Regions from separate parts of the Homo sapiens genome. Here regions 2 and 3 are each linked to region 1. Evidence: fine-mapped expression QTL. A gene starts in region 1. Each other region holds a variant in brackets. All regions are shown on one strand. Distances are between the middles of the regions.

Region 1 (5,222 bases):
TGTTCGTGACTTTGGTTTAAAGAGGCTGGGAATCTCTGTGTAGAGGATCGCTAAGGGGACAGTCGCCAAGGGGATGGTCGCCAAGGGGACGGTCGCCAAGAGCCCTTCCAGGTCAACTGCCCCATAGGTGTCGGGCATCACTTGGGCAAATGCTTGCCCTTATGTATATAAAGCCTGGCTCCCTGTGCAACGAGCCTCTTGTCTGCGGACAGAGCCCCCCATGTGTGGGTGTGTCCACCCCACAATGTCTGGATTCAGCCAGGCCTACAGGCCCCAAGTGTGGTCACTACTGCACCCTGAGCCTGTTTCCCCTCCAGCTTTGATAGTGACTAGTGTAAAGGTGGAGCTTGGGCATTTCCCTCCCCAACCCCTCCCCATCCACTTCTTGAGCCAGAAAAGGGGAGTTCCTGATCACAGCCTGGCCCTACCCCCCAACCACCACCACTAAGGCCATGCCCACTTGGGAATCCCTTACCAAAAGACCTCTAGCCCCTAAATGAATACAGTGACCTCTCCCCTCCCGCCTCACCCTGCTCTAGCCTGAAGGACTGAGTAGCAGATTTCACATCCAAGTGCAAAGTCAGACCTTCCTTTCACCTATCAAGTGGCTCAGCTGCATCCCCACCCCCATCCCTGCCCCGCCCCACTCTGGACACATCCTCAGCTATGGGCCAGGGGTCCTACATCCCACACAGAAAGAAACCAGAATCGCCGGCTTCTCATTCCCTCCCTGACGGGCCCTTCCCGGCGAGATTCGCACAGGTTCTGGTGCTGAGTCAGAGGTTTACAGAGCATCAGAATAAAGCAGGGGCCTCGGCTGAGTCCTGCCTCCAAAGGCCCCTATTTGGGACAGCCCCACCCTGGCGAGATTTATAGAAACACCACCCTCAAACGGAGCGCTCCAGGCTAAACCCCCACCCACTCAGACTTTGAGGCACAAATGCCCAGCCCACCCACACCCGCAAACCAGAGGCTGGTACCTACCTCGCCAACTTCACATTTTGAAAAATAACAAAGCCAAGGGCAGAAGACAGACCAGCTGCCCCCACACCCAACCTTCTCCTCCCTGAAAACTCCACTTGCTACTTTTAATCTATTTTCCTCCATCAGACTGGAGGCAGCTCCCGGCCTTCTCCTGAGGCTACCATCCCCCCTCATCGGCTTCTAACTTTGCAGGTCACTGGACAAAAGAGAACCACCGCCACTCTTCGCGAGACCTCACTTGTCGCCCACCACCGCCCCACATCGCGCAGGCCCTAGTGGCCTGGATGCTTGCTGCCCCTGGCGAACTGCAGGGAGGCTTTGCCAGAAGCCGCTCCCCTGGGGCCTGAGGGCGCACTCAGGGAGGCCCAGCCCGGGAGGCCCCGGGATCCGCGCCGGGACGCCTCTCTCCTGCCTCATCCCCACTACCAGGGGCCTGACGAAAAGCCTGCGAGGTTGGGGAGAGACCCTGGGGGGCGCCGATCCAGCCACTGGACGCGCACTCACCCCGCATCGCCACGGAGCCCACGCGTCTGCGCCAGGGCTGCGGGAAACCCACGCGCGCTGTTCAATCCGGGCTCCGAGTGACGAAAACCCGCGCTTGGCTCCAGCCGGCCCGGGACCGACGCACCGACTGGCGGACGCGCGGACAGTCTGGCTTCCTAACTAAGTTTGAAAGTTCCCTCTCCGGCGACCGAAGGGGACGCGGACTGCTTAGAGGCACCCAACCCATCCAGGCTGGGCCAGACCCGGCAGTGGGACCTGACGCCTCGGGTTCGGGGTTCCAGGCACGCAAGCCTCCATCACTGGGAATGCGCCCGGCGCAGCGCAGCTGGGACCTGGCTGGGGTGGGGGGATAGATCCTGGAAACATGGAGGAGGGAGGGTGTCCGGCACTACAGCCCCAGCCTGGAGGGACGCCGGCTCACCGCTCCCGGGAGGACACAGGCCTCGATTGGCCGCAGCCTACTCGGAATCCGAGGCCCCGCCAGGCAGTGACGGCCAATTAGTAAACTGCCCAATTAGTGTGCTGCGGCGCTGAGAAGTTAAACCTCGACGCGCGAGTGTGGATGACCGAGGTGTGGCCGTCCCTGGGTGTGACCGCGTGTGACTGTGTGGCCGTCAGGACGATCTGTGTCTGAGGCTCACCGTCCAGGGGGGTGGCTGTGTGTGACAGCGTGCGCCTGGGTGAGGCGTTGTGGCTGCGAGAGTGTGACTGTCGGGCGACTTCTTTGTGTGACTGTCCCCCGTTGTGCCTGGGTGTGACAGCGGGTGGGGGCATGTCACGGTGTGTGGGGCATCGGAGCGTCTGTGGGTGACTCGTCTGTGGCGGTGAGGCTGTTTGCGGGTGAGTGGTTGCGTGTCGTTGTGTATAAGTGACTGTCAGGGTGACTTGCGTGGGACGGCGGGACCGTGTAAGCAGTGCCTGGCCGCCTGCGTGTGGCTGTGGGTCACTGTGACGGCTTGTGAATGACTGCGAGGCTGTCAGGGGGACGCGAGTGAGGGGCCACTGTGTCGTCGCACGGGTGGCTGTCGGGATGACTTCTGCCCGCGATCCCAACAACTCAGGGCGTGAGCGTGGCCGCGAGGGGATCGATGTGAGCCGCCCGTGCCCGTCGGCGGGGCTGATGTGCGCGGCCCCGTGTGACCCCGGGAGCGCCTGAGTCCCGAGCTGCCAGGTGACTCCGGCCCCGCCCGCCGGGGACCCCCGCCCGCCCCCGCCTACCTTGCCGCCGTGGTAATAGTCCAGGTGCGCCAGGCCGGCCGGCTCGGCCCCGGGCCGCGCGCCCACCGCGGGCGCCGAGGGGTACAGGCGGACGTCCATGGCGGGCGCGGCGGCGGCGGCGGCGGCTCCCGCGGGCAGTGCCTGGGCGGGCGGCGGGTGGGAGCCAGTGTGCGAGCGGGACTGCGAGCGCGGGGGGCGGGCCGGGGGCGGTGCCCAGAGGAGCGCCCCGCCCCCGCCCCCGCCCCGCCCGCGCGCGCTATTGTTCCGGCCTCGGGCGCTGCCTAGGGCCGGGGGCCCGGGGGCCCGGGCCGGGGCGTGGAGGTCCTTCCTCCGGGCTGGGCCGCCGCCGGGTCCCCCGCCCGGCCCTGCATCCCTGAGGGGGGCGCGCCTGTCCAGACGGCGCTTTTCCGTCCCGCCTTTCGCCACCCACGGTGAGGAGAGAAGCCCGAACGGCACCCCTCCCCAGAAGTGGGACACTCCCTTGCCCTAAATATTTGAGGCGGCGCTAGTCCCCGCCCCGCGGCGTGGGTGCGGGGGGAAGAGGAAGGTGGTGACAGGACCACTTTGGAGATGGGTGCTGCCTTACCTGGGGGGACGCAGGCCAGCGCCGGAGGATGCTCTTAGCATGCCCGCCCCCTCCTCGTCTCACTGATCTGAGTCAGCTTGACAGCCCCCCCTGGAGATTGCCGCGCTTAAACTCTCACTCACATATGGGGAAACTGAGTCAAAAACTTGCAGCATCAGTAATGGAGCTCCAGGCGGGTGGGCTCCGTTGCCCCCAAAGGATCCAGAGCTGAAACCACTTGGAGAAGGCAGCAGGACCCCACCCCTTTTAATGATAGGGAGGGGAGGGCCGCAGGAATGCCTAGAGCCCGAAGCTCTGAAGAGGGGTCTAGGATCTGCCCACAGTCACGGTCTCTTGGAGTGAGGAAAGGAAGAAAATGAGATTGGAATGGGATGGCTCTGATGGTGGGTCAGAAAGGTGACTGTGAAATGGGGTTCCTCCCCAACCAAAAAAAAAAAAAAAACCCTCTAGTTCTTGATATCACTTGCTGGTTGCTAGACTGTTGCACCCCCATCCCCCTTTTCATGCAAGAATTGTCTACACTAGCAATCTCCCCTAGCAATCTCACTGCTCACTGACTGCTCCAGGTATGTCTGACTGGGAGAGGCCAGGAGGCGAAGTCAGCCAGAATGGCATTCTTGTGTGGCACCAGGATATAGGATGCCATTGGGAGAAAAGGACTTGAGCTTCCTGCCCACTCAGGAGCTAGCTTAGAACTTAGTTCTCAACTGCTGCTTGGGCTTTGCTGGTCCTGGCCTAGAACTAGGACCATAAGAAAGATGCATTAACAAAAGATAGGTGTGGGAAACAGGCATTCACTGAAGGCTTGGGAACAACAGAGGGAAATTATAGCTCAGAAAGGAAAGAACTTCCAAATAAATTTCAGCAGTCATTGTTTCTAGAAATACAATGCCACACCTCATCAGAAAAAAATTTCCATTGTCCTGTGTCCATTTTTTTCATCTGGATATCCAACTGACCAGCACTCTTTATTGAAAAGATCACCACCACCACCACCACCCCCCTACACACACACACATACTCTTCTGCAATGCTAACATTGTCGTAAATCAAGTAGTCGATATGTGCATAAGACTGTTCCTGAATTCTCTATTCTGTTCTGTTAGCCTATTTTTCTCTCCCTGTGCCATTATCACAATGTCTGGATTACTGTGGGCTTATAAGTCTAAATGTCCCATGAAATAAGCCTACCCATTTTGTTCTTTTAAGACTGCATTGGCTATTCTTGATGTTTACACTTTCACAGAAATTTTGGAATCAGCATACCTATTTATATATATACACACAAACACACTAACACAATCTTGCTGGGATTTCAATTGGTATCACTTTGAACCTTTAGATCAATTGGAATAAAATTAACATTTTCAATAGTAAAACTTCTTATCCATGAACATGGTATGTCCCTTCATTTATTTTGGGTTTTTAAAAAAGTTATCTCAGCAATGTTTTGTAGTTTTCTACGTGGAGACCTTGCACATCTTTTATTAAATTTAGCCCCGGGTGTTTTTTGTTGCTATTATGAATGGCTTCTTTATTTTATTTTCTGTTTGTTGTCAGTACAGGGTTGTTGTTTTACAACATGTCCACAAATTCTTTGACACCTTTCCCAAGAAGTAGAGTCTAACACTCTTCCCCTCGGGAAGGGATTAGTCTTAGCGAATGGGTTTTAACAAAAAGAATGTGACAGAAGTGAATCTATGTGACTTCTGAGGCTAGCTAGATCATAAAATTAATAGGGCTTCTACCTGGCTCCCTCTCTCAGGACTTTTGTCTTTGGAACACTAAGCCATCATATGAGAACTCTCTCTTAGGCTGCCATGCATTGAAGAAGCCCAAACTAACCCACACAGAAAAATCATATGCAGAGACCCTGATACTAAGTAAAGAGGGATTCCTAGCCAGTCCCCAGCTCTGCCAGCTCCTGCTG
Region 2 (5,222 bases), 70 kb after region 1:
AAAAAAAAAAAGGCAGGCCGGGCGCGGTGGCTCATGCCTGTAATCCCAGCACTGTGGGAGGCCAAGGCAGGTGGATCACAAGGTCAGGAGATCGAGACCATCCTGGCTAACACGGTGAAACCCTGTCTCTACTAAAAAAAAAATGCAAAAAATTAGCCAGGCTTGGTGGTGGGCGCCTGCAGTCCCAGCTACACAGGAGGCTGAGGCAGGAGAATGGCGTGAACCTGGGAGGCGGAGCTTGCAGTGAGCCGAGATTGTGCCACTGCACTCCAGCCTGGGCAACAGAGCGAGACTCTGCCTCAAAAAAAAAAAAAAAGGCAGAACACGCCCCCATTCCTCTTAAGCTCCCTTGTGCCTCCCTACTCATCCACTTCCCTGCCTGGACTGACAACCACGTGCATCTGGATCCATTCACCCGCACGGAGGACGAGTGTGACTTGCTACCATAATAGCAAAAAATAACTCGGCAGCAGCATCAATTACAATCTTAAATGTCCTTGCCCTTTGATCTAGCAATCCTACTACTTGTGTAGGAATCTACCTACACAAAGTAAATGTTTAGTGTGTAAAGATATTGATAATAGCCCCAGCCTCCAAACGTGCAAGGAGAAGATCGGAACTGCATGGGGATCCATCCCTGGGAGGGAAGCTGGATACAGTGTGACCTGGCCATCCTGTTGAATTCTATGAAGCCCTCACTCACAATGGGGTGGACCTGTACATTTCCACATGGAGAGTGCTCTAAGATAAGCTGGTGAGTGAAGGAAGCAAGACGCAGGCCGATACTCAAGTGTGATGCCATGACCTGCTAAAACTAAAGTAGCATGTGTAGGTTGCAAGAGAGGACTATTAACACGCCCATCCCCAGCTCCCCGCTCTCATCTCTCACAGAAAGGGCTGCTTTCCCCACCACGACCTCCCTGGAGAGCCCACACCTGCTCGTGGGCTTCTTAGAGGCTGGGAATGGGTTGTGGGGGACTCCCAGGTGAGAGAGCTGGTCTGCAGAAAGCAGCTGCTGCTCTGTGACAGGGCGTGCGTCCCTCCCCACAGCGTTGTTTGTGTGTATATATGTGTATGTTTATATAGACAGATCATGGTGAGACTAAGATCAGACACACCAGGAAAGGCGCACAGTAAACTGGTCTCCATAGTTACTCTGGGGTGGGATGAGGTGGCCCTAAAGTGATGGGAGAAATGACACAGATCTTTCAATAATGACATGGAAAGATGTCCACAGATGACTGGGACTGGGGAGGGAGAACAGTTGCGAGATAATAGGATTCGTGGACTACCACTTTCAAAATGACATAGCTTTGTGTCTCCTTATATAGACACACCATGCTACACATCAAGCTTTTCCTGCTAGTTACTTCCTGGAAATGGGATCAGGAAACGGTGAGGGGCCACTCTGTTTACCTGCCCCTAGACCCCATGGAAAGGGTTGGTGGGAAAATCACAGCATGAAGCATAGCGCAGGGCTCAGCACTTAAGGCGTCCTCATCTACAGAGAATGTAAGAGTTTGGCGGAACTAGCTGAATGGGTCTTTTGTTGAATAAATATTGTGGCTCACAGGTAGGCCATGCCAATAATCAAATCCCCGAAAAAGTTTTATGCAATAAAAATACATTAGCATTATACCTAGACTTGACTCATTTTTACAATGGATGATTCAGAAGTTTCTATATTTTTAAGAAACACTTAACTCTCTTGGCCTCAGAGATATCATGTGCTCCTGGCTTTCTTTTCTCCTATATCACTGACCTCTCCTTCTGAGTCTCTTTTTTTTTTTTTTTTTTTTTTGAGACAGAGTCTCACTCTGTCACCCAGGCTGGAGTGCAGTGGCATGATCTCAACTCACTGCAACCTCCGCCTCCTGGGCTCAAGCAATCCTCCCACCTCAGCTTCCTGAGTAGCTGGGACCACAGGCATGTGCCACCACACCTGGTTAGTTTTTTGTTTTGTTTTGTTTTGTTTTGTTTTTTGTCTCTTTTGCTCATTCATTCATACACCCACTCATTCATTCGGCGTATATCTATTGAGTTCTTATTACATGTCAGACATATTCCTTGGTGGTGGAGATACAAGTGTAAACAAAACAGACTACATTCCCTGCCCCTGTGGAATTTAATTCTAATTGGAGGCACAAGACAACAAACAAATTAGTTAAATACATATATAGTGAGTGATAAGCACCACGGAGAAAAACAAGGTAGGGGAAGAGAATCAGGAATGTGGGGCTGAAAAGGGAGTTGCACTTTTAAAATGGTCATCAGAAAAGCTCTTTGGGTAAAGACCTAAATTCGATGAGGAAACAAACCATGCCTATTTCTGGGATAGGGAAGGGTGTTCCAGGCAGAGGGAACAGCAAGTACAATGGCTCAGAAGCTTAAGAGAACATGTAGCAAAGGAAAATTGCATGGAGGTTATGGAGCATAAGTGGTGGGAGCCAGTGGTGAGAAATGAGTGTGGAGACTGTTAGGGCTTTATCAGGAAAAGCACTGGGCTTCAGGCTAATGAATGTGGGCTCCATGCAGAGGGTATTAGGAATCGAAGTTACCCCATCAGGTTCTGTGTGGGGAGGGCAGGTGCTGGGGCAGCCTGGAGCAGGAGCCTGGTGATGAGGCTGTGACAATTGTTGGATGAGGGACAGAGGATGACTAAGGAGGGTGGGAAGTAGGGGACCTGATGCCAGAAGGGGC[G/T]TGTTTGTTTCCTGTAGCTGCTATGACACATTACCATAAACATGATGGCTTAAAGCCACAGAAATTTATTCTCTCGCAGCTCTGGAGGCCAGAAGTCTGAAGTCATTATCACTAGGCTGAAATTAAAGAGTCAAGGGCACTGTGCTCCCTCTGGAGGCTCCAGGCCAGAATCCATTCCTTGCCTCCTCCAGCTTCTGGTGGCTGTGCCACTTTTTAACTTATAGCAGCATGACTCCAATTTCTACCTCGGTGTCACATTGCCATCTGTCTGTCTGTGTCAAATCTCCCTCTGCCTCTCTCTTATAAGGATTGTATGTAGGGCCCATAAATTAGCAGATAATTTTCCTATCTCAAAATCCTTATCACAGCCACAAAGACCATTTTGCCACATAAGCTAATATCAATATTTAGGGGCTGCAGGGATTAGTGCCTGGCACCTCATGGGGGCTGCTATTCAGCCTGCCACATGGATAAAAGGTATAGATTGCTCAGACACAGGATCTCCTGCCAGGCCTCACCCACATGGCCCCTGATGACCTCCACATCGCTAAGTCTCCTGGGCGATGCTCAGTCCTCATCTTACCTGACCCGGCACAGCTCAGCTCTCCTAGTTCTCCTCCAACCCTGCAACTACTCCTTCTCATTGCCTCTGTTCATCCCTCCTCTTCTCCCCAAGGCCCTGGGGGCCAGCCCTTGGTGACCATATCTACCCACATGCCAGCCACTCTAGCCTAGACCTCTGTCCCCATCTGGAAGCCCATAAACCTGACTCTCTCAACAGCTCCACTGGGATGTCTAGGAGGGCTTTCCACATCACAGCTCCAAAGCGGGACTCCTGATCTTTCCCCAAACCTGCCCCACCTGCAGACTCCCCCTTCTCAATTGTCAACCTGTCCAACCCATCAGGAGGCCTTGGCAGCTCGGTCTTCACAACACACTCAAATCTGACCCCTTCTCCCCGGTCCCAGCCACCCTCTCCTCTCTTACCTGAATTTGGCTGCAGCCACCTCACTGGCCTCCCTGCCTCCCCTCTCCAAGTGAGCCTTTTTGAAGGTAAATCAGATGGCATCATTTCACCCAGGGTCAAAGCCAGGCCTTGCATTGTTCTACAAGGCCCCGCATGATCTGCCCGCTCCCTGTCTTCTCTCTGACCTCATCTCCTGCTAAGATCTCTCTCCTCTTCCTACTCCTTCCTCTTCACCCACACTCTGCTATTCCTTGAGCTTGCAAGCGCCATTTCTTCCTCAGGACCTTTGCACTGGCTGTTCCCCTTCTTTGGAATGCTCTTCCCTTCAATACCCCCATGACTCATTCTCTTGATCCTTTAAAATCTTGCTCAAGGGTCAGCTTCTCAATAAGGCACACTCCGACTACCCCAATAAATATTGCAACCTCCTCCAAGATTCCCAGTTCCTCACCCTGCTCCACATCCTCCAAGGCAGTCCCCGGGGCACATCATTTGCTTATTCATGTTTCCTCTTGAGTCAGCCCCTGAGAGATGGAACGTAGGAATGTTTGTTGATTTTGTCCACTGGTTCCTCCTTTGAACGTAGATCAGTGCCTGGCACATCACAGATGCTCAGTGTATGTTTGTTGCATGGATCACTGCGTATGAGGTTGAGGGAGCAGCAGGAGATCAGAATGGCTTTGGGAGTCTAATTCCATGTGGACAGTCTCCTGTCTCCATGAGGCGGACAGGGCAGGGGCAGGTCAGGGGAGCTCAGGTTTGAGTGTGGAGGGTATGAGGCACCCAGGACCTACAGAGATACCTCCCAGTGCAGCTGGCTCTCTGGAACAAGAGCTCAGAGAGACATCTGGCTGCACGAAAGAGCCTGGCCTAAATGAGCCTGGCTTTGACCCTGGGTGAAACTATAACAGAAAGTGCACCTTCTAGCCCTACCCCAGAGTCAAGCTCACCTGGGTGTGAATCCCAGCTCCTCCCATTACTGACTGTGAGACTCTGGGCAGGTTCCCTCCCCTGCTGCACTTCAGTTTCCTCATCTATAAAATGGGGACAGCCACTGTACAGCATCTCACACCGTGTTGTTGAAAGGGTTAAATGAGATGATACTCAAAGCATTGAGTATGTGGCATATGCCCTTGTCTGCTTTCCAAGGGCCAGGTGGCAGGGCAGGTAGCAAGTCCCCAGGAAGCTGGCCTGGGACTCTGATTCACCCGCAAGCCCTGGGCCCCTCAGACATTTGAGGCTCCATCTTCAACCCCTCTCTCGAAAGGTCCAATCCCCCAGCTCTGCCTCGTGCTGTAGGCATTGCCATAGTTAAAGCAGGCTCTCAGCCACATCTGAGCCTGAGTTAATTGGCCTCTGACCCATTTTTCTAGCGGACTCATTACCTCTTATTTAGCCTTGAAGACTCTGGTGGCTGATTGGCAGAGAAGCTTTCACAGCTGGGAAGAGATATGGGATCTGGGTCAGCTGCCCACTGTCCGTGAACTCTGGCCTCAGTAGCTAATGGCAGAACCAAGGCAGGCAGAATGAATTTCCTGACCCCAGGACCAGGCCC
Region 3 (5,222 bases), 36 kb before region 1:
ACTGAGCCACTCCTGGGGCATGCCAGGGCCCTTTCCCCAGAGACAAGTCCTTTACACTGACCTTGCCACCAGCCTGCCCTGCATTCCTACAGACGTGGACACACACCAACCCGGATCAGCCCAAGCAATGAGAGGCTCAAAGAGTGGCTGAGAGTGTGGGCATACATGTTGGAGCATGCGGGTTGGGAGTGGAAGGACTATGTTAAGAGACACCTCTGCCTGTGCATGAACGTGATGACAGACAGGTACAAGGGGCGCCACAACAGACAGGAGGAAGGGGTCAGTTCTGTCTGAGCAGACAGAGGCGGCTTCTATGCACTGGGTCTCAAATGATTTTCTGACTGAAGGTGATATATTAGTTTCCTAGGGCTGTTGTCACAAATCACCATAAACAGGTGACTTAAAACAACATATTCTCTTACAGTTCTGGAAAGCCCGAAGTCTAAAATCAGCCTCACTGGGCTAAAACCAAGGTGTCATCAGGGCTGGCTGGTCTGTAGGCTCTAGGAGAAAATCCATTTCCTTGCCTTTCCCTGTGTCTAGTGGCTGCTTGTGTTCCTTAGCTTGTGGTCCCTTCCTCCATCTTCATAGCCGTCACCCCAGTCTCTGCTTCCATCCTCACATCACCTTCTCCTGATTCTGCAACCCCTCCTCACTTATAAGGACCACTGTGATCCTATAGGGCCCACCCAGACAACCCATGATACTCTCCCCATCCCAAGACCCTTAATCACATCTGCAGAGCCCCTTTTGCCATTTAAAGTAACATACACAGGTTTCAAAGATTAGGACCTAGCTATACTTAGGGGTCATTATTCAGCCACCCACAGTGAGTCCCGTAAGTACCGACTAACTGTGTCTCAGTCTGCCTATATGTCTGGAGAGGGCAGAGAGGGAAGTACCTGCTGTGGTAGACTTTACTACTGCTCTCCAATATCTGGCTCTCCTCTCCTTCCTGGCACATAGGACACTACACCTCAGGCTCCCCTTACCATTTATTGGAGCTATGCGTCTAGTTTAGACCAATGGGTTATGAGCAGAAACAACGTGGGTCTCCTCTGGGTAGAAGTATAAAAAAGCAAACTTGAGATCTGCAGGCTTTCTCTAGAGGACCAGCAAGGTTCCAGATGGTCGAGACTTGACCAACCTACAGCCCTGAGTGATCTGTGGAGCAGAGCCCAACCCCTACTTCTCTGCTGATTGTCATGGAACACATAGTAAGAGCAAAAATAAGCCTTCCTTATGATAAGCAACTGAGATTCAGGGGGTTGTTACGGCAGCATAACCCTAACATGCTCAGTTAAGTTTAGGCCAGGGGCAGTGGCTCACACCTGTAATTCCAGAGCTTTGGGGGGCCAGGGCGAGAAGATAGCTGAGACTAGGAGTTTGACACCAGCCTGAGCAACATAGCAAGGCCCCGTCTCTTAGAAAAAAAAATTACTTTTCTGCTGGGCGCAGTGGCTCACGCCTGTAATTCCAGCACTTTGGGAGGCCAAGGCGGGCAGATCACGAGGTCAGGAGATCGAGACCATCCTGGCTAACATGGTGAAACCCCATCTCTACTAAAAATTTTAAAAAAAAAATCAGCCGGGTGTGGTGGCACATGCCTGTAGTTCCAGCTACTCGGGAGGGCGAGACAGGAGAATCACTTGAACCCAGGAGGTGGAGGTTGCAGTGAGCCAAGATCGCACCACTGCACTCCAGCTTGGGCGACAGAGCGAGACTCGGCCTCAAAAAAACAAACAAACAAACAAACAAAAAATTATTTTTAATTAGCCAGGCATGGTGGTATGTACCTGTAGTCCTAATCAGGAGGCTAAGATGGGAGGAGTGCTTGAGCCCAGGAGTTTGATGCTACAGTGAGCTATTATCATGCCACTGCACTAGAGCCTGGTTGACAGAGCAAGACCCTTTCTCTAAAAAAAAAAAAAAAAAAAAACATAATAAGTTTAATAGTAATGGTCATTTGCTGATCATCTACCATGAGTCAGGCACTTTATCTATATTGCATGTAACCCTCATAATCACCACCCAAGCAAGGTCAGAATTCACTACTTTTGTTTTGTTTTGAGGTGGAGTTTCATTCTTGTTGCCCAGGCTGGATTGCAATGGCACGATCTCAGCTCACTGCAACCTCCGCCTCCTGGGTTCGAGTGATTCTCCTGCCTCAGCCTCCCGAGTAGCTGGGATTACAGGTGTGC[G/A]CCACCATACCCGGCTAATTTTTTTGTATTTTTAGTAGATACGGGGTTTCACCATGTTAGCCAGGCTGGTCTTGAACTCCGGTACTCAAGTGATCCACCCGCCTCAGCCTCCCAAAGTGCTGGGATTACAAGCGTGAGCCACCACACCGGCCTATCTACTCTATTTTAAAGGTAGAAAACTCAAATACAGAGAGGTAGACGTGAAGGCTATCTACCTAGGAAGTGGTGGAGCTGGGATTCAAACCCACAGCAATGTGGTTCCAAAGCCAAACTCTTAACTACTGCAAGGGTCCCTCCTGAAAGGGACCACAGGCTTCCAGACCCTTCTCTGGCCCCAGACAGCTATCGCCCTGAAGGTCAGCAGGGGCTTCTGGCCAATGCAGGTCAATCATGGGGCCAGAATCCTTAATGACTACGTGAGCCCATCCCTGGGGCCTGGAGCCCAGAAACAAACCCCCCTCACCCCAAAATCTAGCCTGAACCTCTTCTGATTGCTGGGCTGGTTCTTACTCATGTACTCATGCGTCCGTGCACCAAAAAAGTATTTGCTGTGCATCTACTTTGTGCCAGGCACTATTCTGGGATCCTGGGAGACAGCAGTGAACAAAGACCCCTGGAGTTTACGCTCTTGCATTGGAGATAGAAAACAATACACATAGTCAATAAGTGACTTACATGGTATATGGAAAGAAGAAAGAGTTGAGCAGGTGAGGGGTATTGGGAATGTCGAGATGGAGGGTATGCACGTTTAAACAGAGCAGTCAAGGTGGGCCTCATTGAGGAAGTGATAGTGGAGCCAAGACTGGAAGGAGGTGAGGGAGTGAGCCAAGTAGATGTGTTGGGGAGAGCATTCCAGGGCCTGACAGCCTGTGTACAGGCCCTAAGATGGGAGCTGCCGGCAGGTGTGACCTCGGTCAGCAAAGAGACCAGCAAAGACAGGCAGAGCAAGCAGTGGGGAGGGGGAGGGGAGGCCAGAGAGGCAACTGGGGATGGAGTGTGCCCCACAGATGGCACTGAGATTACCCCTCCCCAGAAAGAGGAAGCCAGCACTTTTTCCACCGGCCTTATCTGATGCTGTGGTTGGGGAGCCAGCGAGGGCAGGCGAGAGGGCTGCAGAGCTCAGCACATCCGAGGAACCTCAGCAGGGCCTCAGAGCCGCTGACATCCGCTTGGCCTGCGGCTTCTTCCTGTGGCTTCTGCATCTCAGGTTGCCCCGATGGCTGCTATTTTTGCTCCTGTTTGGGGTTCTGTGGTGGGCTCGTCTATGCATTGTTGAGTTTGCTCTGCTCAGAGCAGATGTGAGGGGTTAAACATTCCAAGTGTCTTTGGGAACACTTACAATCCAGCAAGTGGGAAAGAGGAGGATGTTTGTTATACATGTCATCTCGTCAATCCTCGTGACCCTCCAAAGCAGAGAGGCTAGGTGGCTTGTCCAAGGTCACAGCCAAATCAAACCAGTTTGAGGATCCTATTCCAGTCTGTCTAGGTCTGAAGGCCCTTAATTTGCAGGGAGGTCTTTTGCATCTACTGCCTAAATTAACATTTCTGTGCTGTCTGGCCTTGCAGCACGTGTGAGAATAAAGGTGCATCATCGTGGGTGATGTCCTCCCAGAGCATCACAGCACTGATGGGGAGGACAATGACAGAAGCGGGCACAGGGAAGGGGACCCTGGCTCTGATAGTTGCGGCTAGACGGTGGGGGCAATCAGAGAAGGCTTCTGGAAAGCCGTGGATGTCGTGACCACACCTGCGAGAATAAACAGGAGTCCAAGGGGTAAAAGAACCATTCCAGACAAAGGGGTCTGAAAGTAAAATTAAGAGGCACAATAGCTTGGTCAGTGGGGAAGCGGATTTAGGAGGTGGCAGGACAGTGATTCTGCAGGAGGCAGAAGCTAGCTTGTGGACTGCAAAAAGTGAGATCAGACAGGTGCCCAGCTCCCCCAGGTGGGTATATTAAAGGTATCAGAACAGATCCAGCTGATTACAAAAGACAACCAACCACAGGCTTTAAGCAGGGAGGGATGTGCGCATCAGGTGGTTCTCAGAGATCCCACTGGCTGCTGCGAGAAGAACAGACTAAGGAGGAAGGGTGGAGGCAGGGAGGCCTGGGAGGAGGCTCCTGCGGTCATCCCGGTGACAAGTAATAGTGAAGCGGGGAGAAGTCATTGCACCCTGAAGGTACAGCCAGCAGCAAGTGCAGTTGGATTAGATGCAAGGAGTAAGGCAGAGAAAGGGGTCAAAGATGATCCCACATTTGTGGCCTAAGCCGAGGGGTGGACAGTCATATATAAAAAGTGGGCACAAAGTAGAAGGGGCATTTTGAGGTGACGGAGGGTGTGAATCAGGAAAAGGGCCATTGAGAGTAACTGTTTCCTTCTAGATGAGCCCCTGGGGTGAGGACATGCAAATCAAAGCTGCCTTTCTACACCAATCCCCCCATGACTAGGGGGCTGCTGCTCCCATGGCCTCAATTGCTCTTCACAGCAAGGAAGACCCAGGGAGGTTAAGTGAGCTGCCTCAAGCCTCACAACTAGAAGTCAAGAGACCAAAGGCTAAAAATCCAGGTCCACCCAATTGCTACTCCAGGCTCATCTCAACACCCAACAGCAGGAGGTTCCCGAGGCCCTCCCTGGAAAATGGCTCCCCAGGCCCAGGAGAAGCTGGAGAATTCACTCCCCATCTCCCCATCTATATTTCATGCCTCCCTTTGCAACTGTCCAGATGTGTGAACATCTGCCAGGCCCCCTGGCTAGACGGAGATGGCAGCTCCTGGGCAGCCCTGGGCCTCCCAGTGGGCGACACAGAGGCTGCCCCAGCAGGCCCGGGGCCTCCCAGTGGGTGGCACAGAGGCTGCCCCAGCAGACCCCCAGCTGCCTCCACTGGAAACCTCACCTCCCTGCCCCTGCTCCCAATTTCATTAATTACCGGTTTGTTCATGCACAAGGCAGCAGGGGAGAGTCATCAGGGATGCCGCCGGCCGAGGAAAGGAAATTAATTTCAAACATGAAGCTCATCCTGCTC

Which allele goes with the higher level. Alleles are on the strand shown, and positions count from the first base shown. SD is a standard deviation of normalised expression in the study named. Not every link is listed here.
For the expression in breast of the gene that starts at base 2,845 in region 1, T is the low allele of the variant in region 2 and G is the other (moderate effect, 0.48 SD a copy in GTEx).

The links.
Region 2: its variant is fine-mapped to the expression of TOX2 in breast (GTEx, PIP 0.96). The same link has a PIP of 0.9 or more in ileum.
Region 3: its variant is fine-mapped to the expression of TOX2 in whole blood (TOPMed, PIP 0.99).

The regions. Positions count from the first base shown.
Region 1 is chr20:43,912,475-43,917,696 of GRCh38, reverse strand. TOX2 (TOX high mobility group box family member 2) reads right to left here and starts at 2,845. Exons shown (of 9, transcript NM_001098797.2): 1 at 2,707-2,845. The coding sequence starts at 2,805. RefSeq lists enhancers at 235-294, 1,673-2,390, 2,391-3,108 and silencers at 1,365-1,414, 1,475-1,534, 2,605-2,694, 2,745-2,854, 2,875-2,974 and 1 more.
Region 2 is chr20:43,842,558-43,847,779 of GRCh38, reverse strand. No RefSeq gene overlaps it. Among named protein-coding and RNA genes, the nearest start is that of LINC01728, 50 kb to the left of the region's middle. The variant G/T (reference allele first, on the strand shown) is at 2,701.
Region 3 is chr20:43,948,425-43,953,646 of GRCh38, reverse strand. The region is part of intron 1 of TOX2 (TOX high mobility group box family member 2); the gene reads right to left. Among named protein-coding and RNA genes, the nearest start is that of TOX2, 36 kb to the right of the region's middle. RefSeq lists an enhancer at 2,983-3,072. The variant G/A (reference allele first, on the strand shown) is at 2,202.